Linked DNA regions of Homo sapiens: regions 2, 3, 4, 5 and 6 are each linked to region 1. The links come from fine-mapping of genetic effects on gene expression. A gene starts in region 1. Each other region holds a variant in brackets. All regions are shown on one strand. Distances are from middle to middle.

Region 1 (4,000 bases):
GCACCAGCTTTACTCCCAACTTGCTGGGCAATCTTCGGGAGTTGCTGACCTTCTCTGTGTCTCATCAGCAAAACAGGGAGAACACTAGCTCTCCCAACATGGGCTGTGTGAGGACCAAATGAGCTGAGGAGCCCAGATTTGAACCCGGGTCTGCAAGGTTATGTCCTCTGAGCCATCCCCACCCCTGCCCTTAAGGACCAGGGGCCTCTGGACACCATCAGCTTGCCCACCTGTCCAGGATTTGCACGCACCTGCTCGGTGCCAGATGCTGGGCACTGGGGACAAACCAGGTGAGGTGTGGACCGTGACCTGTGTTGTCACTGATTGGGGGACTTTCTGGCAGAGTGGAGAGTGCAGTGGGCTGAGAGACAGGATGGCCAGTGGAGACTGAGCTCTCAGAGGCGGCGGCAGCTGATGGGGACCATGCAATGGGAAGGATGGAGGCCCTGGGATAGTCTGCGGTGAACTTCCAGGCAGAAGGAACAGCAGGTGCAAAGGCCTTTAGCTGGGAAGGAAACTCTGGGTTGGAGGAATAGCTTGCAGGCGCTCTGAGAGAGGCTGGCAGCCAGGTGGCAGGGAGGCAGCCCAGTCAGGTGGTCTTGGGACAGTTTAGGGTCTCTGGCCTTCACCAGTGAGGTGGTGTCTGGAGACTTTTGCAGACGAAGGCAGCTCTCACTCCCATCTTCCCGGGGTCCCTCTGGCTGCTGAGGGTGGATGGGTGGAAAAGCATCTTTCAGGGAAGTGGAGGCAGGGCTGGAGCAGTTGAACATCTGACTGGGCCAAGGGTCCAGGGACTGGCATGGAACAGGGCTGGGTGGGTGAGGCCGCCTGGGAGACCCCAGCTTGCCTCTGTTTCCCCCTGTACTGGGGCCTCCTGCGTGAACCAGCACTGGTTTTTCCAGTAACTGGAGCCACAAGCCTCCCTAGGAACGGCTGACCCATAAGAGGACGTCCTCAAGGTCCCCAAGGGCTAGAGGCTGAGATGCCGCCTTCGCCTGGGCGGGCCTCGCAGCCTGGAGGCAGGCGGTGGTGCAGCTCGGGCAGGCCCCGTCCACACGCCTCCCCGCTCTTCTGAGCACCACGCGTCCCGTGGGCTCCCTACCCGTCCTGATAACACGGCGGTCCGGGGGCCTCGAAGCCGGTCTGACCCCAAGTACCCGGGCCAGGCGGCTGCCGTCTTGTCGCCCCAGCCCATCCCCTCAGCCAGCCCGCCTGGCGGCACGGGACCTAGCCCCAGTCGACTTAGGGGGAAACTGAGAACTCCAGAAGTTTCGTGAACTCCCTGGCTTCGTCCGCATCCCGCCCTCTGCCTCTTCGCTCGGGCTTCAAAACTGCCCCTCCGACGCCCGCCTGCCCCAGGCCGACCTGGCCTAGGCGCCCGGCAGGCACAGGAGCCAAGGTCAGTCCCCGAGGCCGCCCGCGCGACCGGAGCCGCCTCCTCCCAGCCCAGGGGCGGCCTCGGGGGCGGCGGGCGCGCGGCCGCGGCGTGGGGAGCGCTCCCATTGGGCCGTGCCCCCACGTGACCCAGCGGGTCCGGCGCGCGCCCTAAGCCGGTGGAGCCGCGGCCGCGCCTGTGCGCGAGGGCGCGCGCGTCCCGAGCCCTCCACCCGTCGTGCCGGCGCCGCCCGGACCGCCAGGTCAGTCTCCTCCGCGCCCGCTCGGGGCGGGGGCGCGCGGCGCTTTGTGGAGGCGCGTGGGGGGCCGTCCGCGCGCGAGCCCGCCGCCCGCTCCGGGCACGGCTTCGGGGCCGCGCAGCCGGGAGGGCCGCCGCCTTCCCCCTGCCCGCGCGTCCCGGGACCCTGCGCCTGGCGGCCGATCCGGCGGGAACGTGGGCCTGGAGGCTGCCACGTGCCGGGGCCGAGCCTCAGGAGGCCGCTGTTTCCCCAGGCGAGCCACAGAACACCCCTGGCTGGAAGGGGGTGACCCGCTCCCGTTTCTGGGTGCGCGGGAGACCTCCTACCCTGAGTTCATCCTGCGCAGGGTCCCGCCCAGGATCTGGCTCTGCCCCCATTCACGGCTCATTTTCCTCAGCTGCACAGTTTGGGGGGCTGGAACCCCACAGCCTTCCGTGCCTCCAGGGCGGGTCGTAGATGTCAGTGGAGGTCAGGGGAAAGCAGAGCGTCAGGTCTCAGGCCGGGTGGAGTCCGCCTCAGACCATACCAGTGTTGGGACTCGGGCGGCGCCTCAGCCCTCCAAGCACACCCCGGTAGAATCAGGTCAGCAGCCTTGATCCACGTGCCTCAGGGATTAAACGGGTGACTCCTGACACGCCCCTGGGCAGCTGGTGGCCCAGGGGTGGGGTGGTGGCATGCTTAGCTCCAAGTGGGCAGAGCAGTTTCACCCTGCCGGTTCCCGGAGGGAAGCCCTTTATGAGGGAGGCTTCCCTGGCCCTCTGTGATAGCGGCTCCAAGGGCAGCGTGAGGTCCAGGCTAGCTGGTCACAGTGTGTGCCCGGGCACCCTCAGCCAAGACAGAAAGGCACGTGCTGCACCCCCTCTCTCTGCCTGCGGGCTCTGGGGTGTGCCCCGCACACGATGGTGGGTGTTGGGCATCCACCTAGTCTGTGGACCCTGGGGGCCCTGCTCCCAGGTTGGAGCAGTGTCCTCGGCTGCAGACCAGAGGAGGTCACTGAACACAGGGTGCCTGTGGCCTTGCACAGACAGAAGCCGCCTGGCAGCCCTGTGCAGAGCCGTGCTTCACTGAGTTCCTGCAATCCTCCCAAGAAGTTCGTTAACCCCATTTCTCAGATGAGGAGACTGAGGCCCACAAAGGTGGAGTTGGTGCAGCCCCTAGCCTGCGGGGCTAAGCAGAGCCTTGTTGTCCCCATCTGCAAAGGGGGCGTTGGAGCTGCTGTAAATGGGCCCCGAACCTGTCACCTGAGTGGAATTAGGCATTGGGGATCTCCCCATCACCACGCCGGCCCCCCTCACTGTGGTTACGAAGGAGGAGAAGCTGCCCTGTGTAGGAATTCCTGGGCTGTTTCCAAATAGCCCCGCTAGGGAGCTGGTCACCCCTCAACACCCCCAACGTGTTCTCCAAGCACTTACTCTGTGCCAGGCCCAATGCTGGACCTGGAGATGGGGCATGGCTGGCTGGCTGAGCGGGGCAGGTTGCGGACAGGCCCCCGCAGGCAGTCGGCGTGATGGGAGAAAATGCAGGCGGGGATGAGATGCAGCCTCCAGGTGGTTTCCTCAGCTGCCTGCTCCTCTCTGCCTTTGCCCTCCTCCCGGAAGCTTGCGCTGACCACTGGAGTAAGGCTGGGGGCCTCAGCTGGTCCCCTCTCTGTCCCAAGTAACAGCCCAGAACATGGTGAGGGTGGCTGGCTGATGCAGTCAGGCACTGGACATGGGAGGCAGGAGGAAGGCCGGGAGGTGGGCAGCTTTCTCAGACAAGTGGGCAGTTTGGATGGCGAGGAGGTCTTGGAGGCACCATGGGTGGCTGGGCTCAAAGATGACATGAGGGCATGCTTAACAGATGCTTAACCAAATCCTGAATTGGCATTGGCCAATTTCTGTGGTGTAACTACTCCCAAGCTACACAGACGTGACTTTACTGGCTGAGGACTTGGGCAGAGGTGCACACAGTCAGACTGAGAGGGGGGCATAAGCTGGTGTGAGCCCTCCCTCTCACCGCCAGGGTGGGCAGAGTGTCCGCTGGTGCCCAATGCCTATGCACGTGACCTCCTTAGGGACTTACATCCAGATGGCGGTGATACAGCTTGGGGAGGCCTCTCCCTGGTTGGCAGGTCCTGGCGAAAGGGTGAGTTAAGTGGAAAGTGTACCAGGCTGGTGTCCAGGTGGCATTTGGCCAGAGGGGCTGAGCTGGGAGCTCCTGGGCCTGGGGCTGGCAGATAGTGGTGATTTTTCGCCCCCCAAGACCTTGGGCTTGCCTTGTTCCATGAAGGTCCCAAATCTGACCAAAGGCTGTAACCAGATGGTCACTGTCCCAGACCACCCCAGGGCGCTTTCTCACCTCGAGAGCACCGTTTCTCCCCACCTCCA
Region 2 (4,100 bases), 23 kb after region 1:
CTGGCCTCATGCCCTTCCCCTGTTGTGGACCACTTTGGGGCCTCTGGCTGATGCTGGTGGGTGAGGACCTTCCTGGGCAGCCTCCTCCGGCCAGCAGGAGGGACCATCAGGCCATGCGGACCCTTGGAGAGCTTGGGGGTCGGTTCCTGCCCTGGAGTCAGCTGTGTCTGCTGAGGGTCCACTGGTGTGTGGCACAGAAGGGGTAGGGGCTGTGCCTGGTGTGCCAGGGAGGCCCTGAACTCTCCGGGAGGCCAGATCAGGGGCCTCCTCTGGGCCTGCTGGGGGCCTCTGCATTCTTGGCAGGGCCTCAGGGACTGGGGCGGGGAGAGGCTCCTTCTCAGAGGCTGTGAGCTCCGAATGAAACTCCATGCCCTCCGGGACACCATGCCCACTTCTGGGTACTGGCCTTCAGGGGCCTTGGATGTGGGTGGCATGGCACTGGCTAAATGGGGCCCAGGAGGAAGGCAGCAGGACCGTGGGCATGCAGGCCTAATGCCAGGGCCAGGGCAGGCTTCATGTGGGCTTCCTCCTGTCTGGAATCCTGGAGCCGCACAATTTCCGACCCAACACCCCGTACTCCAGAGCGACTGGCTCTTAACGGAAGCTGCTGCTGGCAGGTGTGTTATAACAGAGCTCTGGGGTGGGAGGCTGGGGGCAGGGAGGGTTAGGGCCGTCAGAACACGGCTCCCTCCTGCCCAGGGCAAGGTGGGGCCACGTGTGCGCATGTGAGTGGGGCACCTGGTCTGGGTGTGGCCTGGGAACCTGCATGTTACAGACGCCATGGCTTTGGAAACACTCAGGAGTCCAGCTGTGTCTGTTCCAAGATGGGTCAGGGTTGCCGCAGGGAGGGCAGTGACTGGTCCACAGCTGGTGTGGCTGTGCCATCCTCCTTCCAGCCTGGGCAGAGGCCTTCCAGGCAAGATGAAAGATGCGGTATGGACAGGAGGACATGGAGGATTCAGGGCTCTTGGTGTAAAGATGCTGTGTGGACAGGAGGACATGGAGGATTCGGGCTCACGGTGTCCCTGGAGGCTCTGGTGGGCGTCGTGGGGCTGGACTGCTGCGGGGCAATGGGGTCCCCATCTTCCCGGCACAGGCATCTGATCTGGTCATCTGTTTCTGTGGCGTGTGTGTGTGTGTGTGTGTGTGCACGTGAGCACACATCTCTGTGTATGCAGGTCAGTGTGTGTGCTTGCCAGAGCTTCCCATTGGGCGGTTTCCACACTGGCTTCTCAGTCATCCTGGGAGGTAAGGCATGAGCACTGGACTGGGAGTCCTGTCTGAGCCACCGACTTGGCCTGCCATTGTGGAGCTGTCCTGTCCACTCGCTGGACATTAGGCCATTTGTGTACAATAATCCCCTGAGATTTGTATCCTCCCATGGGGAGATCAAAAGGGGCCGAGTGTGGCCCTAGGGTCTGGGGGCCCAGCCTGGTGGGTAGACCTGGCTTCTGGGACTGTAGTGGTGGAAGGTGGCTGGGGCAGGGGAGGTTCACTCACTGGGAGGCTGGAAGAGGTGGCCCGGTAGGGAGAGAGAAGGGCAGCCAGACAGAGGGCACGTGGGAGCAGCAGCCTGGTGGCAGGTGTGTGAGTCTCTGCACCTGGCCGGGGTCTTGAGGAGCAGGAGAGGTTCGGGCAGGTGGCTGAGGAGAATGCGGGCACTGAGCTTGGGAAGAGCCCTGGACTGGGGGGGGGGTAGGGACTGTTGGGCAGCCCCAGACTGGCACAGGTGGATCGGGTGCCTAGGCAGGGGGTGGTGAGTTATGGCGCAGCTGTCTTGGTGGCTGGGGGGAGCAGGGATAAGGGTGGACTTCTTAGTGACCGCTCTCTGCCCCAGGAGGTAGAGTCCTGGGGGCTGGGCTGGCCTGAGAGACGCCCCCTCATCCTTTCCAGGGTGAGGTACGAGGGCTCCGCCCCCTCCTGATATCACCAGGCCTAGGGCAGCATCCTGATGGGGGAGGGGCAAGTG[A/C]CCCGGGCCCTGGACTGCAGGAACAGCCCCTCCTCCACTGGTGGAGTTCCCACTTCCTGCGGAAGGAACTATGTTAGAAGTTGTGTATATGGGGTGGGGGTTGGGTGTGGGTGGCGGGGGGCCTGGGTGGGGTCCACTGAGTCGCCTCCCCTGTCTCCCTGCACTTCCTCCTGGAGGAAATGGGGACAACAGGATGAAGTGAGGGCCTGCTGAGCCCAGGGCTGCCACCTGGGAGTGAAGCCGGGGCAGGCTGCAGGGTCCGGGCCCTTCTGTGTGGGCAGGTGGAAGTGGTGGGGATGCAGTGAGGCTCCCTCCAGCGCGGCAAGGAACGGGCCCTGGGACCCTCTTCCCAGCCTGCAGCAGGCAGTGGGGAGACAGGCCGGAGCCCTGGACAGCCCCCAGTCTTTCCCCACCCCAACTACAGGGCCTGGGTCTCCGTGCGCCATCCCCCTCCCGCCCCCTCCCGCTCGCTCCCGCTGTTACAGGGCCCTAGGGACCGCCCTGTCCCCCGTGGGCCCCAGAGCCCAGGCCAGCGCTGGAGGGACCCTCCTGCCCTCTGGCCGGGACCAGGGTGCCCGCCGCAGCCCTGGGACCCTGCGGCCCCGGTCCCTATTCGAGGCCCCAGCCGGAGCGTTCCGGGATCCTTCGGGGGAGTGCCCAGCCCCGCGCCCCCGCCTCCCACATGACTCCGGGTGGGCCCTTTTGACGTGCGCGGAGGGCGGGGGGCAGGGGGCGGGGCGGGGGGGCAGGGGGCAGGGGTGGTGAAGGGTAGGGGGCGTGGCGGGGAGAGGGGATGGGGTGGGGTGGGGACTGGGGTGGGGTGGGGTGGGGAGAGGGTGTGGGGTGGGGTGGGGAGAGGGTGTGGGGTGGGGTGGGGAGAGGGGATGGGATGGCATGGGGGGATGTGGCAGTGAGGAGGCTGGGCCCTTGGAGCTGCCGAGTGCAGGGGCCTGGAGGACTCCGGGAAGGCGTCCTAGTGCATCAAGCGTGGGCTTGGCCTGCTTGGGTCTCCCCTCCTGGCCCCCCTAGCAATGGGCGGACTTGGGCCCGCTCTGGGAGGATTCCAGGAACGGCTCCTGCCTGGTTATAAATAGACTTCTCCGAAAGGCCTGGGGCTGTGCCAGCTGCAGCAGGTGCCTCCCAGGCCCGGCCAGAGGGCCCCAGGCAAGGGGGTGGAGCCCGGGTGGGGGTGATGAGGATGCTGGGGTCCACTTTTGTAGCGCCAGAGGCGACGGGCTCTGTCTGGTTGTAGCATCACAGAGCTTGATGGGAACTTTCACTCTGAGACCCCTTTTATGGATAAGAAAACTGAGGCTGGGGGGCAGGAGCAGCTTACCCCAGAGGTCCTCTCTCCCAGAGGGCTAGGGTGGGGATAAGCAGGGTCTCGGGGGCAGCAAGACCCAGCTCCAAATGTGGTTTTTCTGCCTTCTGGCTGTGTGACTCAGAAGGGTTGCTCAGCTTCTCTGTGCTGTTATGGTTTGTCAGTGCAGTGTGGCAGGTGTGTGTCTTGCTTGTGGAATGCAGTGTCTAGCCTGGTATCCTTAGAAAGTGGCTGAGGTTGGAGATTGGTGGGGCAGAGTCCCTGAAGCTGACCCATTCTTGCCTTCAACCTTCAGGGAGACGCTGCTGGAAGTGGTGAGCTGAGAGCACTGGGCAGGAGTCAGAGCCTAGCGTCTCCCTGTGGAGCTGGGTGCACCCACGTGGGTGGGTGCCCTTGCCAGGGAGCTCACACCCTTGGGGGTCCATGAGCTGGCAGGCAGGGCTACCTGGCTTGGTGTGCCCTTGGGTGGAGGCTCCCATGGGGCCCTTCAGACTGGGCACAGCCCTCCTGTCCTCTGCTCCCCAGCCTGCTTGCCCACCTGGAGGTGGGAGGAGGCGAGGGTTGCCGGCACAGCTGGGCCAGGCTGATGGTGATGTTTTCTGGAAGTGTGGGTGGGGAGAGCCTGGCAGGGGGAGGGGGGGTCGTGCTCTCAGCTGGGCCCCTTGATGACCTCAGATTGCAGGGACCAGGTTGTTTGAGAGCTGCAAGCAGGGCCACACCTCCAGGGACCCTGTGCTGGGGGTACCACCCTTGCCGCTCCACCCTGCTCTGAGGGCCCTGGGTGGCCAGGGCGGGCACAGAGTGGGTGGT
Region 3 (4,100 bases), 110 kb before region 1:
GATAGGTGGTTCCCCCGTGTGCTCCCCAGTTACACGGGTTCGACCTTCACTAAATCTTTACCGAATCCCCACTCCACAGTGACCGGCCTTGCACTTGGCCCGAGGTCACGGTGTGTCATGTTTTTCTGCGGAAGGACCCCACTTCAGACAAGACCAGGGGTATAAACCGCACACGAGCAGTCAGCCTCCAACAAATGCATCTTTACAAGTCCTGTGAGGTCTGCACTCCACCCACTGCACATCCACGGCCACGTCCGTTTAAACATATTTCCCAAAGAGACGCGCACCCCAAGTTAGGGAAGCGCCGCCCTGGGATAACGAGGACCAACAGGACAAGACTGAGAGGCAGGAGCACAACCCACGGCGGAAAGCACGACACCGGGCAGGGGTCTGCAAACGCCCCGTGCCCCCTTCTGACCGGCCGAGGGCACCTGAACACATCCTTGGCTTTCAGTCTTTCCCGAGTGCATCCTAAAGATGTGAGATCGTGAGTTCTAGCCATGGTCCCAGTAGGGCACCCTCAAGACCTCTGGAACCTGTGTGGTGCTTCTCACAACAGAACAGGGCCGGGCACCTCCTTGACACTGTTCCTCAGGAGAACCAGCAGCGTGAAGGGGCCTGCGGTTGCCTGGGGTGGGGGCAGACGTGAGCGGCACCTCGTGGCTCTGTGGCTCTTGTTACTGACCCCACAGGCGTGGGCAGTTGCATTGCAGGGACCAAGGACACACTGGCTCCCCTCCGCTGGGGACTTCCTGGTCGTGAGCTATGCCCAGAGGAGTCAAAAAGGCACAAGGGGAGACAGGCCTGGCTCCAGCCCTTGGGGTGCCCAAGGCACTGGGTGCCCACAGCCCCTCCTCGGGAAGGTGAGGTATGGGCTTGTGACACCCCTTCCTTCCCTCGGGAGCTGAGGAGAATGGGCGGTGGTGGTTTACTGCATGTTCAGAAAAGGCCTCCACCCTCACCACCCTGCGTGAGACATGGGATCTGTGCCCTCAGGAAACTCAGTCCGAGAGGTGGCCTCACATGCGCGGTTGTTACAAGCAGAGCCAGGTAAGCGCAGAAGCCTGCCAATGTATCTTCCTGGTCCCTTTCGGGGCACCCTTTACCCACACGCCCTACTTAAACCACTTGAAACCCTTTCCAGATGAGGGCAGGTGCAAATCGAGGAATTTATACTTCACAAGAAAAGTACTTCCCCCATTGAATATTTAAAAGAGTAACTGCACCCATCTGCATTTGACCCTGCTTCCTACTCACACTTTCTTCAGAGCCTGCCCCCCAGAAATGTGACCCCCTGTTATCAGCCAGGAGCCCCAGGAATGGGTAAGGCCCCAACTTTAACTTCTTTCCCACTTGTTCGCTTATCAGCAGCAGCCCCCCCGCCCCCCCGCTCCCCACCACCGACCCCATACCACGGCCTCCAACCTCTTCCCCATCTTCCCCCAGTTAAGTTCAAGACTTGGGAAAAATAGAAGCAGCTGCTCTTCACAAACTACTTTAAACCTTACAACGAAGCCAACCAAAATAACTCCATAGTTCAATGTCAGCTGCAGTGGGGAGGAGCTGCAGAGTTCTCTTGCTGGCGGCCACGGGGCTCCCTCCTGAACTCATCCAAGTTAGTATTTTTATCACCAAATCCTAAGACTATCAGAAAACATCTGAGGCCGACCAAGCACCGTGTGACCTTGAGGAAGTCGCCTGACCGCTCCAGGTCATGTGCGAGGCCTTAGGGTGTGAACAGAGCACTTCCCGGTTCCTTCCACTTCTACACGCTTTCATTCTACAACTGAAAACCACACACGAAGGTGTGTGTATCATCATGAGAGAGAGGCCTTCAGAGCCCAGCAGCAACCTATAATAAACAGACTATAAACTCAGCACAGCTCATGCTTTCTTCAAAAGACTGATTTTAACAGGCAGAAGACATAACCGCAGCTATGAAAACCTCTCCCGGCGGATACTAACTACAGCAT[C/T]GTGACTCAGCTGCTCTGATGCTCTGATAGGTGAGGTCACCTGGATACTACAGGTGTTTTCACAAGAGGAAATAACCCACACGCAGGGCACGGAGCGCAGACTGTGCCCCTGCCACAGACCGGCCTTCTCCCCAAAGTCCCTCGTTAACCCTTCACGGCAAGTCTGGAGTTTCCCATTTCCATGGCCAGGACGCTGGGCTTCTGGCCTCCTTGGCTGACTGGACAATTACAGACAGTTGAGTACTGTCTTTTCTGTGAACACTAGCATGTATTTAGCTTAAAAGGATCTTCTGTGCGGCATCTTTTCAGTCTAGCGAGAGAATGCTTTAGGCCATAACAGGTGAAAAGTGCCTCCTTTCACCTGCCACCCCGTTCAAGAGCTGCCAAGGTACAGCAGGCTCTCTGCTGGGCAGAAGCAGGCAGCCGGGTGGAACAGCTAGAATCTCCAGCATCTGCAGACGGGCCTCAGTGGGGCGGTGAGGAGACGGCTCTCAGACCTCCCAGGGCACAGTCCACAGGGTAGCACACAGGAGGGCCCGGGCCAGGGGCACCTGGAGGAAGACGGGGCTCAGAGAAGGAGCAGCTCCATCTCGTACCCTCTTGCGCCCAGCCACCGAGGGGGACTAGACGGCTTTGCACCGACCCCCACGTTTCTCCCACCCTCCTTGCCCCTTTCAAGCCTATGTCATGTCAACAGCCTCCTTTTTGGTGGTGGCTCACATCTGTAATCCCTGCACTTTGGGAGGCTGACGTGGGAGGATCGCTTGAGTCCAGGAGTTTTAGGCTGCAATGAACCATGATCCTGCCACTACACTGCACTCCAGCCTGGGCGACAGGCTTGAGTATGTCTTAAATTTTTTAAGACAGGCTGGGAATTCATATTCACGCTGCCCTTCAGAGCCTCGAGGGCTGCCCTTGTGCAGCTCATTCAAAACCTGCAGAAGGCTGGCCGCTCAGTGCAAAACACACAAACACCAGAAACAGAAAGTTCACAGAAAAGGAGATGCAAATGGCACTTAGGGGTGTTCAAGCTCACGTCCAGTAAGAGAAATGCAAATTGCAAGCGCATCGGTACGCCACATTTTCACATACGACAGAGTGACCCACCACGGGACAAGGCTCCAGGCAAAAGCCCTGACCGTGTCTGATGGGGACCACGCCTGGTTGGACCGCTCATGAGAAGCACACTTCTCTTGCCCCACCAAGTTAGATCTTCTGGAGCCCAGCTAGTCTACACACAGGAATTTCTCCTACAGGCCTACTTCACACAGCCAGGGACCTGTGTACTGACTATGGCACTGTCCTGTCCTGCAGGACTGAGGCAGCCAGGGCCCAGCAAGCTGCAGTGAGCGGGGTCACACTGCCTGAGGTCTGTGCTGGACACACAGCAGGGACTGGATGGAACCTATGCTCTTGGGGCACTCACGGAGGGTGCCGGCCCTGGCTACTTCATGCAGAGCCACTGCTGGGTTGGGAAAGATGACAGGAAGACGAGGGCAAGGGGCACAAGTCCCCGTGCAGCCACATTTTCTGTGGGACTCCCCGTCCAAATGCAGATGGCCAGGCAGCTGGCACAGCAGAAGAACTTGGGGAGCAGTCTGGACTGCAGTCAGAGATGAGTCAGTACCATCGAGGCGCTAATCCTTCGGCGTGGGTGGGAAAAGAGGTCCAGGAAAGGAACCCAGCTCCCAAGAGGGAGGCAGAGGCAGAGATGTGGTCCCAGAGGAATAAGCAGGGCCTCAGCCGGCCATGAAACCAGCCAGGTGCGCGATGGAGTCAGGGCCTGGGGAAGAGGATGATCGGAGAAGGCGGTGCCAGGGAACAGTGGGCACAGAGGCCAGGGCGAGAGCAGAAGGGGCAGAGGCGGGGATGGCGGGGGAGTGCACACTGCACTTTCGAGAAGGAGTGAGAAACAGGGCTGCTGCTTGGGAGACTCGGAGCCAACAGGGGTTGTACTTTTGTCCTTTTTAGTGAAAGACATTAAATCCTACACTGATCAAAAACCTAAGTTCCACGCCTTAGTTCCCCTTAACTCACTCACCCCTTCCATCTATGACAGACAGTCATCTGGAGTGAAGTCTAAGAGTCACAAAGATGTTATCTCAACCGTGGCTCAGCATTCAAACA
Region 4 (4,100 bases), 48 kb before region 1:
GCTAGCACGTCTGTGCTCTGTCTCTGGCTTTGCCTGTTCTGGACATCTCTGGAGGTGTGAGCACCATGTGGCCTTTCGTGTCTGGCTTCTTTCACTTAGCACGGTGGCTTCAGGTCCCTCCGCATTATCGCATGTGCCAGTGCTTTGCTCCTTTTTACACCTGAGTAATCGTCCACTGTGGAGTCATCCTTTCAGCTGCTGAGAGATGCGTGGGCAGTTTCCACCTGCAGCCATCGTGAGTAGTCGGGTGAGGCTGCTGAAGCAGACGAGTGAGGGCACTGCCCGGGCCATTTGGGCTGGAGCGGGGGTTTGAACTCCTCTTTGTGGGACGGAGGCTGTGTTCTTGCCCACACCTCTCCCTGCTCCAGGCCTGTCTTCCCCTTGGGACTGGGACTATGACTTGGTGGCTTCAGCCTCCGCAGGGTGAGCCTGATCCTGAGAGTCAGGCTGGGCTGAGGAGGACGGGTGGGCCTCCTGGGGGAGGTGACGACTTCGGACTGGACCTTGCAGGAGGGATGGGCTGTCTGAGGATGGGAGATGGGAGGAGGTATTGCAGGTTGGGCAGCAGGTGAGGCTGAGCTGGGAAGGGAGGTGGTTGAGGCTGGTTCTTGGGCTGAGTGCTGGGGAGGGGTCGGCCGGGGATCACCGAGAGGTCCCTCCAGGCTGCATGAGCAGAGGAGACACCCTACGGGTGATCTTCTTGCCTTTGTTTCTAGAATTCACAAATCCTACAATTCTAAGCTCTCAGAACCCTTGGATCTGAAGGTTCTCAAATGCTAAGGTTTCTAGATGTTAGCAGACGAAGGTGTCAAGACGCATGGGATCTACGATGCAGAGTTCTGAGTGGGGATATGCGTCCCCCACCCCGACTCACCCCACGACACATATCAGTAACAGCCTCTGCAACTCCGCCTTGGTGCCCCCGCACGTTCCAGGGGCAGCCACACTGATGGATTGCTCAGAACGGGCTGGAGGTGAGATGTGTTTGCCCGGAGCCCCCACACACTGTCGTCTCCAGCTGTGCCTGTCCCTCCCCACCTTCCACTCTGTGTCTCTTCCCTGCCCCCCTTGTGCCCCAGCCCCAGCCCCCCCTGTTCTTTCCTGCCACCCAATCCTGTGCCCCACGACAAGGAGGCTGAGCCCAGGGATGGCCAGGAAGGAACCCCCGGCAGGCTCTCAGGGTGGGAGAGAGGTTGTGGGGATCAGGGGCTTTGCAGAAGGGACAGGGAGGCAGCCCAGAGCACCCCAGCTTCTTGGCCAGCAGCAGGTAACCTGGCTGGAGGGCGGGGCCCCCATGGGCCATCCCTGGGCCAGCTGCCCAGGGCTACCAGGAAGGCAGCTTGTTTTGTAGGAGGTCAGGCAGCGCCCTAACCCCACCTCTTGTCTTCCCTGATGTCACACCCCAGGGTCAGCCCCTTGGGCCAGAATGGGGGTGATGGTGGGAACCGGGAAGCTGAGAGAACAGGGAGGAGGCCGGGTGGGGCACACCAGGCTGTGGCTGTGGGGATGGGGAGATTCCTCGCCTGGGCAGGCCGGGCAGCAGCGGGGCAGTCCTGGGGGGTGTGGTAAA[T/C]GCTTCTGCTCTCTTCCCCTGACTACATGGGAGCCTCCGTCCCACCTCACCTGGAAAAGGGGCTTGGAACTGGGCTGCTCGGCCTTGGGCACACCAAACGGGGCCCTTGGAGCCCTGGGCTTCCTGGGGTGGCTGGGTCCCCACCCTGCCTCTGATCCATCCTGAGTCTGCATTTCTTCTCCAGGTGCCCCCTGCCCTTGGCCTCCCACCACGGCCTGGGAGTAGATAGTGGGCTGGGGCAGGCCCAGCGCTGTCCTCTGTGGGAAAGGAGGACTCTGGGCCTGGAAATAGTTGAGTGTGGACAGAAATAACCCTGACTGGCCTCAAAACAGAACATGGAAAATTAAATAGGGAACATTAGCATTCACCCCGCGCTTGCCACAGCCACTGTCCCATTTGGGAGGCGGGCGCGCTTATCCTCATTTAGAGACAGGGAAACTGCGGCCCAGAGAGGGGAGGTGACCTTCCTGAGGTTCCTCTGCCAGCCGGCCAGGCCCTGTGACCCCTGTGCCTCTGTGCTTCCACTACACAGCCGCATCTCCACTTCTGCCCCGACAGTTCCTGCTGCAGCAGATGCCCTTCCAGATGCAAACTCCTACGCATCCTTCAAAACCCAGCTAAATGTCACTTCCTCCGGAAAGCCTTCCCCACCTCTCTAGCAGGCAGTTGAGCCCAGCTTACATTTCCGACAGGCCCTCACTGCCCGGGATTGCAGCTGCGGGCTCCTTGAGGGCAGGGATTGTCCCTCATTCATCCTGATTCCATGCCAAGGCTTATAGTAGGTGCTCAATAAATGCTTGCTGAATGATAGATGGGCTGTGTGTGGTGCTAAGTTGAATGCCTTGTCCCTTTCCCACAATTTCATCTCAACCACCCAAGAATTTAGCGTGAGTATGGCTGTTTTACTAAGGAGCAAACAGGCTTACAGAGGTGAACTCACCTGCTCCAAGGTCACACAACAGTCAAGGGCTGGACCTGGGATTTGGTCCCAGCCCCGCAAACACAGCCCCACTACGTACCTAGCATGGGCTCAGGTAGGCCCTAGGGGTGGGCAGTGTATCTGACCACTCGTCCTGTCCACCTTCCCCTGCACCTGTGGCCCCACGGACCCCTGGGCTGGCTCTCAGGTGTGGCATCTCCACCTTCCCCCACAGGCCCAGAACCCACCCTGCTGGGCCAGCATCGTCTCCCAAGGGCTCCCACACAGACACAGTGGGAGCCCCTTCCCTCAGGCTGGCCCCCAACTTGTCCCCTTAGAGGGGTCGTTGGTAAGCACTGTGGCCTGAGGCTTCCTCTGTGAGAGACTTGTGGGGGTCATGCCACAGGGGAAGAGGGAAGTGAATGGATAGAAGGTTCTAGAACTATTAGCTATTGCAGGGACAAGATATGAAGAAAGGATTTCAAATCCTGGTTTAAAGAATCAGCCAGGCACAGTGGCTCATGCCTATAATTATAGCACTTTAGGAGGCTGAGGCAGGAGGATCCCTTGAACCCAGGAATTGGAGACCAGCCTGGGCAACATGTTGAGACCCCATTTCTACTAAAAGTAAAAAAAAAAAAAAAAAAAAAAAAAAAGATCTGACTATGGTTCCATGTGCCTGTAGTCCCAGCTACTGTGGGCATTGGGGTGAGGGTGGCTGTCGCTTGAGCCCAGGAGGTCAAGGCTGCAGTGAGCTGTGATTGCACCACTGCACTCCAGCCTGGGCGACAGAGCAAGACCCTGCCTCAAAACTAAAAACAAACAAAAAGAATCAAGGTTCTGGGGTTCTGGAGTTGTTTCCATCTTTCCGGCCTCCCGCAGTCCAGCAAAGGCCTATGGGTGAGGCAGAGCAAGTGCTGGAGAAGGTGGCAGCAGGTGGCCTGCGGGCCAGTGGACAGGAAGGAAGTGAGACAGCTGGCAGGCGACTCGGAGCCCGGGAGCGGGAGTGGGCTGGAAAGACCCCTGGCCTGGCCCTGCCTTGGCTCCCCAGAGGGTGTCAGGGCCCAGTGGCCACACTGCCCGCTCCCTGGGGCCCCCTGACAGGAGTTCCCACCGACCTCTCCAGGAATCTGGGGCCCGGGCCTTGTGCCCACCTGCCAGGCCAGTCCACCCTCAGCTGAACCACAGTGGGGCAGATGGATACACAGGCAGGGGCGTGGCCCAGCTGTCGGGCCAGGGTCTACTGGACACTGTCACTGTCTCCCTCTGTCCCTACAGGTGGGGCCTGTCCCCTCTGCCTGACCCAAGGGGCCAGAGACCGCCGAGTGACACACACCCAAGCACTCTCTCCCTTGCCACCGGCTTTGGGGCAGGTGCCAGTGATCTGGTTGGCAATGCTCAGGACTGCCTGTCAGGACATCTGAGCCCTCAGGCTGGTTTCTCACTCCTGCCCACACAGCGGTCTCGGCTGCCAGGCTGTGTGACTCGGGGTGGGGGGCTCTGACCTCTCTGGGCTCACAGGTGATGAATGAGGTTTTTAACCTGAGGACCATGGATGGCCGTGGGGGCTCTTGGCTCCCCCGACAAGTGCAAGTGCAGCCTGTCATCCAG
Region 5 (4,100 bases), 53 kb after region 1:
TGGTCTCAGCCATAATGCGACAATGGTTTTCAGAAGAAGGGGACTTGGTGGGGGGAGTGGCATTTTGTTTGCTCTGGGAGGACTCCAGAAGCTTCTGGTCCTGTGACTTCTTGGGCACTGTATTGGCTTGTTCTTCAAGATTGCCTTGTCCCTGCAGCCCCAGCAGGGCTTCCAGAAAGATGGGCTGATTCAGCATTCTTGGGAATCCATGCCCAACTCCCCTGCAGGTCCATAGAACACAAAACCACCTCCAGCCCAGGACCCCCGGCAATGCTCAAGGACATGTGTCTCCTGAAATCCATACGCAGTCCCAAGACCGATGAAGGTGGAGCCCCTTGAGTCTCTGCCTCGCTGTGGACTCAAGGAACCATCCTCCGTTCCTGCTGGTCTCAACGTCGTTGCCTGCCTGCAGCCTCTTTGGACACTTGGCATCCCAGTGATGCCTGCCCCATACTCGACCAACCGTCCTTTCCCCACTCTGGCCCCGGAGAGGGCAAAGGCACCTGAGAAAGAGGAGGCAAAGCCCCTCTGCTTTCCATACTCCTCCCCAGCCTGAGGGTCCATGAGACCCTCTTCCCTCTCCCATTACCTCCTCCTCTTCTGGTTTTATTTTTAATTGTGGTAAAATGCACATCTCATACAATTTACCGTTTTAAGTGTACAGGTCAGTGGCATTGAGCATATTCATAATATTATGCAACCATCACCACCATCCATCTCCAGAACATTCTCATCTTCCCACACTGAAACTCTGTCCCCATTAAACATTAACTCCCCATTCTCCCTCCATCCAGCCCCTGGCACCCAGCATTCTACTTTCTGTCTCTGTAGATTTGGCTACTCATGGACCTTAAGTAGGTGGACTCACACAGTATTTGACTCAGCAGAATGTGCTCAAGGTTCATCCATGTTGTAGCATCAGAATTTCCTTCCTTTTCAAGGCTGAATAGTATTCCATTGTATGGATGGACCACACTGCTTATTCTAATTCACCCATTGATGAACACTTGTGTTGCTTCTACCTTTTGGTTATCATAACACTGCTGTGAGCAGGGCGTACAAATATCTGTCCCAGGTGCCTGCTTTCCTTTCTTTTGGGTGTACACCCATTAGTGGAATTCCTGGGCCATATGGTAATTCTATATTTAATTTTTGGAGGAACTTCCATACTCTGTTCCAAAGCAGCTGCACCGTTTTACATTCCCACCAACAGTGCACAAGGCTTCTGATTTCTCCACATCCTCGCCAACACTCATTTTCTGATTTTTTTTTGGACAGTAGCCAACCTAATGGGTGTGAAGTTCCTCCTCTTCTTTTGATCACAAGCCTTTGGCCCCAAATCCCCAGGGGACAGAGGGAAAGATGAAGATGAGATGAGGGTGAGAATGATGAGTGCCTTCGAAATAAAGAGAAACGATGTAGCCCATTTGAATTAAATAGAGTTGGCCCACATGGATGACGTGTGAGAACAATGAGAATTCCTTTGTGGGGCAGGGTGGAGACTGGCTGGAGGAGGACCCAGCTGAGAACTGACCAACGCAGGAAACATCTCTAAGGAAAAGGCTTTGTTAGTGGAGGAGCAGGGGAGAGGGAGGCCCCTCTGGCAGGCCTGGCAGCACCTGTTGCAGTCCTGCCCAGGGAAGGGTGCCCTGCTCAACCCCACTCGCTGCTTCCTGGTCCCAGAGGCCTGTCCATCTAAGCAGGACATGAGAACTTCAGAGGCCCAGGGCTGGCCCCATCAGGCCTCAAGACTCCCCTGCTGCCCCATGGTGTCCTGTGCCGCCCCCACCGTTTTGGGCATGCAGAGAGAGTGGCTACTCAGCACTGCTCATCCAGTTGTCCTTCTGGGCCCCTGTCCCCACCTTGACAGTGCCACAGCAGCCTGGCAGGGACCTCAGACCGTGAGCCACCGGGATACACCTGGGTGTCACTCTGCTCTCAGGCCTCCCTTTCTCCCTGGCTCCGTGGTGGTGCTGGGTGGCATGGCTGCTGGTTTGGCAACCGGAGCCTGGGCCCCTTCGCGGTGGTCGAAGAGGCCTGGGCCCATGCCGCTCCCTGGAGGGCGTGGGAGCCAGGCCTGGCCAGTCAGAGCCGCACAGGCCCCTGTGGCCAAGGTGATTGGTTCAGGATTGGGTATGTGAGCAAAGCTAGGCCAATCAGAGCCCAGGACTGTGCCCGTGGTGAGAGTTTTTTCTCTTGGGGCTGCGGGAGCTGCCGGGGCCACCTCCAGGGCT[C/A]CAGGAGAACCTGCCCGGAGCGGCCTGAGCAGAAACCACCCGTGGCCCCGCGCGAGGCAGAAGTCCCTGCTATATGGGGAGCCTGAGAGAGACAGACAGACGTCCCAGCTGTATGGGGAGCCCGAGAGAGAGACACGTCCTTGCCGGTGGGGGAACCCACGAGAGACAGATGTCTCAGCTGTATGAGGAGCCCCCAGTGAGACAGACGTCCCAGCTGTATGAGGAGCCCGAGAGAGACAGACAGACGTCCCAGCTGTATGGGGAGCCCGAGAGAGACAGACAGACGTCCCAGCTGTATGAGGAGCCCGAGAGAGACAGACGTCCCAGCTGTATGAGGAGCCCGAGAGAGACAGACGTCCCAGCTGTATGAGGAGCCCGAGAGAGACAGACAGACGTCCCAGCTGTATGAGGAGCCCGAAAGAGACAGACAGACGTCCCAGCTGTATGAGGAGCCCGAGAGAGACAGACGTCCCAGCTGTATGAGGAGCCCGAGAGAGACAGACGTCCCAGCTGTATGAGGAGCCCGAGAGAGACAGACGTCCCAGCTGTATGAGGAGCCCGAGAGAGACAGACAGACGTCCCAGCTGTATGAGGAGCCCGAAAGAGACAGACAGACGTCCCAGCTGTATGAGGAGCCCGAGAGAGACAGACGTCCCAGCTGTATGGGGAGCCCGAGAGAGATAGACAGACGTCCCAGCTGTATGGGGAGCCCAAGAGAGATAGACAGACGTCCCAGCTGTATGGGGAGCCCAAGAGAGATAGACAGACGTCCCAGCTGTATGAGGAGCCCGAGACAGACAGATGTCCCAGCTGTATGAGGGGCCTGAGAGAGACAGACGTCCTTGCTGGTGGGGGAACCCGCGAGAGACAGATGTCTCAGCCGCATGGGGAGGTCCCAGTGAGACAGACAGACATTCCCGCTGTATGGGGAGCCCCCAGTGAGACAGACAGACATTCCCGCTGTATGGGGAGCCCCCAGTGAGACAGACAGACATTCCCGCTGTATGGGGAGCCCCCAGTGAGACAGACAGACGTCCTTGCTGTATGGGGAGCCCCCAGTGAGACAGACAGACGTCCTTGCTGTATGGGGAGCCCGCGAGAGACAGACAGATGTCTCTGGCTCTTCGGGACCTTCCAGTCTATGGGTGAGGGCAGTAAAGCAGGTAAAAGGCGCAGATCACAGATGGTAGCTGATGGCGGGGCTGCGGCGAGAATAAAGCAGCAGAGGGTGGGAGGCGCCGAAGGGGCTGCTATTTTGGAGGGTGGTGGGGGAGGCCTCAGTGAGGTGCGGGTGAGCAGAGCCTGCAGAGACAGGATGGCTGGGGGAAGAACATTCCAGCAGGGGGAGGAGCAGACGGGGTGAGGCTTTCTCCCAACCCTCCCACGTTCCGGGAGGAGAAGGTTTTATTAGCTTATTAGGAAAGATTCATGCATTTTGCATGGTTGAACTGAATAAAAAAGGAACTTCGTGCACATTTGAATTCGGAGGCAAGATGAGAAGAAGTGGCATTTTTTTTAAGTGACTTGCCTTGGGGAGAGCTGTTAAAACTGACAAATTGCGTGACGCACATCATAATACAAACAAATGAAAAGAGTTGGCCCCAGCGGTTTTTAGACTTGCTTATTGGATTTTTGGAAATATGACCTGGTGCAGAGGGAAGATGAAGGCAGGCAGCCCTACTGAGGCCAGAATACGGTGGGCGGGGGAGCGGGCAACTGGCCGTGATGTCAGCCTGAGCATGTGCTGAGGACCAATGAGATGCCCAAGAGGGCATGGAAAGGCATCTGCCCCATGGGTGAGCCCAGTTCGCCTCTGCATGGACATGCTGTGTGGCCCAGGGGAAGCCTCTGACCCTCTCTGAGCCT
Region 6 (4,100 bases), 33 kb before region 1:
GTCGGGCCACAGCGCCACGGCCACTTGGCGGGCGTGGAAGGGCGTGAAGCAGACGAGAAAGATGATGAGCACCGTGAGCAGGAGCTGCATGGCCCGCACGCGGCGCTGGCGACCCTGGTGGAGCAGACCCGGCCGCGACAGTGCACACATGATGCGGCCGGTAAACACGCTGATGACCAGCAGGGGCAGCAGGAACTCCAGGACAGTCAGCGCAAAGACACGGCAGCAGGGCCGGCTGCCTGTCACGCCCAGCACCGACAGGGTGACGGCACCGGCGGCCAGCCACACGAAGGCGCACACGGCCCTGGCACAGGCAGGCTGGCGGCAGCGGCGGGAGCCTTCGGGCCGCACGATGGCCAGGTAGCGGTCCACGCAGATGCAGGTGAGGAAGAGGATGGAGCAGTGCATGTTGAGGAAGTAACCGAGGACGTGCGGGAAGGCACAGCGCAGGCAGCCCCTGGCGCCGTAGTACACAGCGAAGCGCGTGGGCAGGGACAGCCCTACCAGTAGATCGGTCACCACCAGGTTGATGGTGTAGATGACTGAGGGTGTCTTGGCCCGGGTGCGGCAGCAGAAGACGTACAGCGCCAGCCCGTTGAGCACCAGCCCTGCCAGGAAGATGGCTCCGTGCACCGCCATCAGCGCCAGCCACAGGCCTGGGAAGGTGCCATGCAGCTCCTCGTCCAGCCGGGCAAACAGGTGGAACAGGGGCACCTCCAGCCCGCTGGCATTGGTCCGCACTGTTGTCACTGCGGTGGCATTGGGGACTGCCCCGGCCGAGGGCCCCGCTGGAGACACAGAGGGCATGACGGCAGCCAGCACACCCCAGGCCTGGAAGCAAGGAGACCAGGTCACCCCAGGCGCCAGCCTGGCCTTAAGCCCTGCCCTGAGGCCCAGAACTCAGCTGGCCCGTCTGCCCCTGCACGCCCAGCATCCCCCTTCTCCATGCCCTCGCCTGGCTGGGGCCTCAAATGCCTGCTCCCTTGGCTCTACCCAGAGGGAGCCTCGGACAGCAGCAGAAAAGGCACAGGCTTTCAGAGTCAGACGCGTGTTCAAATTCCAGGACTGGCACTTGCCAGCGTGGAGACTCGACAAAATACGGAGGTTTCTGCGACCGTCCTGGCACGAGGGGGAGGCGGAAACACGTGCGGTGCAGGGCTGTCCTCGGGATGGAGAGCTGATAAGGGCAAGACCACGGGGCTCCAGTGTGCAGTTCCAGGGCCTGGCTCCAGCCCCAGCTGTGCCACTGACTAGTGTGCTTGCTCGGGTAGGCCACTTAACCTCTCTACCTGCTTCCTAATCCATGTCACTGGGATCGCGTTGCTGCTGGGGTGACTAAGCAAGCGGGTCAGCACGGCAGCGCCAGCAGAGTTGGTGGCTGATGACCCAGTTCTGCTGGGACAGAGCCTTGTTCATGGTGGGGACCTCTGACTGCCCTGCCCACTCCCCTGTCCCCACACCCACCGTCATGGCCCCCATCCTCCGGGACCACCCATCTGTTCTCCCCTCCTCCTAGGCCAGCATCAGGTCAATGCCCTGGATGGGGGTCCTCATGAGGGACCTTTACAAAGGGAATTAGGCTGTCCAGTGGGGCTGCATGGGAGCCAAGGACCAGTCTCACTGGGCACCCCAGGCTCCTACTGGCCCTGAGAGGCGGGCACCCCTATGATCCCCCCAAACTACAGAAAAGGAGACAGAGGCCCCTGTGGGGTGGCTGGTTGGGGCTGAAGCCTGGAGCCAGAGTGTGAGTCAAATAAACACCGAGCTCCCGTCTGGCCTGGGCAGGGGGGCCAGGGTGGGGGGCGGGCGAGGGGCTGTGCCGGAGCCACCCACTCTGTTTATGTTCCTGCCCTGGCGTGTTTAACTCGGCAGTGATTTATCCCTCTATTTATAAATGAAGGGTTAACGGCCCTACCCCCACCCTACAGCTGGGCTGACCCTCCAAATAAGGGCATTTCTGGCTTTTTCAGGAGAAAGGAGAAGTCTTTGGGGCCAGCAGGGTGGGGAGGCTCGTGGGCCGTTTCTTCTGCACAGCGCCCCTCCCC[C/T]ACCTGCTGGAGAAGGGAGGACACTTACCCCTTCCCCTCCTGGTGGCCCCTGCTGTAAACAGGCTGTGCCCCGCCACTCCCTCTGACCAGTGCGTGGCCCCATCCCACCCCTGGGGAACAATGAGCCCTGCCTTCAAACAGCCCCTGGCCTGGCTCAGGGCAGCAAAAGAACTCTTGCTTTCAGAGGGCCAGGTCCCTCCAGTCGGCGGCCACCTTCTTCCTCAGAGTCAGAGAGGTCAGTGCCTGCATGAGGTCACCCAGCATGCCCTCTGCCTCTGGGACCCCAGCCCTGGGTGCGTGCTACCCTGGAGGCTGCTGGGAGGAGTCAAGTGCTGCCCAGGCCTGTGCCCAGCCCCTCCTGCCACCCCCACCACACAAGGGCCCAGGCTCAGCTCCCAGCTCCCCCCGACTGCAAGCAAGCTCTCTATCTCCAGGCCCTGACACGCGGGCATTGATGGGTGCATTTGTTGGATGAATAGGTCTGTCCTCCCTCAGCCCAGGTGTGCCACCAGAGACGGGATTTGGGGGCACAGCAGGCAGCCAGGGGAGGAGAGGAGGCTGGGCACATGGGGGCTGGGAACCTGGCGTCTCAGGGCTGTGGGCTTCAGGAGCCCCAGAAGGTCCCCCCGAAAGAGATGCGTCCCTCCCCTGCTGTGGATGAAACGCTCTCAGAAAAGGTCGAGGCGGCTTTGCAGCTGGACTGAGGGACTGCATGGCCAAAAAAGTATTTTGGGATTCCTTTCTATGTGCCTTTTGCTTTTCCAATTTGTCTGCACGGGGCCTATATTAGTGTCCCAATCAGAGACAAATCATAAACAACACAGAACGTTTCCTGTGGGAGTGAGTCCCAGGGTGATGCTGGCCCCTGGGAATTCTGCTGTCCCAGAAAACTCCCCAGGGCCAGCCCAGCAGGCTCACCAGCAACGCTGCGGTGCTGGGGTCCTGGCTAGGGATGTGGGGGCTCTGCGGTCTCTGGAGCTGGGGGGATGGGCAGAATGTGCTGGACACCCCAGAGGCCAGACCGGAGAGGAGAGGGAGCTAGCAAAGCATGCTCTGATTCCCCGCACTAAGGGTCTGACCCTGATCTCAAACAAAGCTGAACCCTCATCTTGGTCACACACTGAGCCATGATCCCAGTAATGTGATGAACCTCGATCCCTGTCCCACTCTGAGCCCTGACCCTGGTCACACACTGACCCCAATCCTAATAGCACAATGGGCGTTGATTCCTGTGGCGCTCTGAGCCCTGATCCCAGCCACGACCTGGGCCCTCAGCCCGGACCTTCTGTCCCTGTCTCTGCCCTCCTCTCCCAGCTTCGTCTGGCTGTCTCTGTCTCCATATTGTCAACCCCCACCTGCCTCCCACAGCGACGGATGTCCCGATTCGATTATTACGGGGCCTCTCTGGGGCTCCCACTCACCACCCTCTTTGTTCAGAAGGAGGAGGAATGCAAGCGGGGACTCTAGACCCTGCAGGGGCCCATGGAAGTGGCTCCCTGGCGAGTGCCTGGGGAAAGGAGAAGGTTCCGCCCCTCCTGGGACAGCCTGGCTCTGCCTGTGGGAGAGGCACAGACTCTGCTCTCCGGAGGGCCCGGGTGATGAGCAGTCACCAGCACAGAGACCCGGGTTTGAGTCCAGCCCTGCCACTCCCTCAGCTGAGACCTGGGCCTGGTCAGTAGGCTGGCCGTCCTCATCTGCTGAATGGGGTCACTCGTGCCTTCCACAGCTCTGCCTCGCCCTGGTAGCCTGGACTGAGGGGAGAGGCATGGTTTTACCCTCAGAGCCGGCCGGAGAGGGGAGGCAGGGCCCTGTCCCCAAGCCTAGTTTCCCTAAGCCAAACCTGGGTGTGGGGGAGATGGTCCTGTCTCCTCCCTCTTTCCTGGCAGGCACCCTGGGTCTGTCTGAGACAGCAGACTCCATGGCGGGGGCCAACTGGCCAGAGTCTCATGGGCAGGGACTGGCACCGTGTCCTGATCGTGCTGACATGGTGTTGGGGCTCAGGGCCTGGAGGCTGTGCCAGGGCTGGGAGGTTTCTCTTTTCCACTGGCCCAGGCC

The links.
Region 2: its variant is fine-mapped to the expression of PTP4A3 in T cells (TOPMed, PIP above 0.99). The same link has a PIP of 0.9 or more in blood mononuclear cells and whole blood.
Region 3: its variant is fine-mapped to the expression of PTP4A3 in whole blood (TOPMed, PIP 0.93).
Region 4: its variant is fine-mapped to the expression of PTP4A3 in whole blood (TOPMed, PIP above 0.99).
Region 5: its variant is fine-mapped to the expression of PTP4A3 in whole blood (TOPMed, PIP 0.94).
Region 6: its variant is fine-mapped to the expression of PTP4A3 in blood mononuclear cells (TOPMed, PIP above 0.99). The same link has a PIP of 0.9 or more in whole blood.

Annotation. Positions count from the first base shown.
Region 1 is chr8:141,390,448-141,394,447 of GRCh38, forward strand. PTP4A3 (protein tyrosine phosphatase 4A3) reads left to right here and starts at 1,574. Exons shown (of 6, transcript NM_032611.3): 1 at 1,574-1,637. It overlaps ASTILCS (antisense transcript of PTP4A3, liver carcinoma survival associated), which reads right to left and starts at 2,174. Exons shown (of 2, transcript NR_187488.1): 1 at 1,961-2,174; 2 at 1-704. RefSeq lists an enhancer at 646-1,266.
Region 2 is chr8:141,412,936-141,417,035 of GRCh38, forward strand. The region is part of intron 1 of PTP4A3 (protein tyrosine phosphatase 4A3); the gene reads left to right. Among named protein-coding and RNA genes, the nearest start is that of ASTILCS, 22 kb to the left of the region's middle. RefSeq lists enhancers at 1-3,317, 1,799-2,758. The variant A/C (reference allele first, on the strand shown) is at 1,970.
Region 3 is chr8:141,285,357-141,289,456 of GRCh38, forward strand. All of the region lies in intron 1 of SLC45A4 (solute carrier family 45 member 4), which reads right to left. Among named protein-coding and RNA genes, the nearest start is that of SLC45A4, 21 kb to the right of the region's middle. The variant C/T (reference allele first, on the strand shown) is at 1,974.
Region 4 is chr8:141,342,242-141,346,341 of GRCh38, forward strand. It overlaps LINC01300 (long intergenic non-protein coding RNA 1300), which reads left to right. Exons shown (of 4, transcript NR_024441.1): 2 at 100-235; 3 at 717-974; 4 at 2,103-2,380. Among named protein-coding and RNA genes, the nearest start is that of LINC01300, 3.7 kb to the left of the region's middle. RefSeq lists enhancers at 1-432, 3,606-4,100. The variant T/C (reference allele first, on the strand shown) is at 1,571.
Region 5 is chr8:141,442,947-141,447,046 of GRCh38, forward strand. It overlaps LOC105375789 (a long non-coding RNA gene), which reads left to right. Exons shown (of 3, transcript XR_928722.3): 1 at 1-4,100. It also overlaps MROH5. Among named protein-coding and RNA genes, the nearest start is that of ASTILCS, 52 kb to the left of the region's middle. The variant C/A (reference allele first, on the strand shown) is at 2,235.
Region 6 is chr8:141,357,117-141,361,216 of GRCh38, forward strand. It overlaps GPR20 (G protein-coupled receptor 20), which reads right to left. Exons shown (of 2, transcript NM_005293.3): 2 at 1-831. The coding sequence starts at 807. Among named protein-coding and RNA genes, the nearest start is that of GPR20, 8.1 kb to the right of the region's middle. RefSeq lists enhancers at 1-610, 2,461-3,057. The variant C/T (reference allele first, on the strand shown) is at 2,046.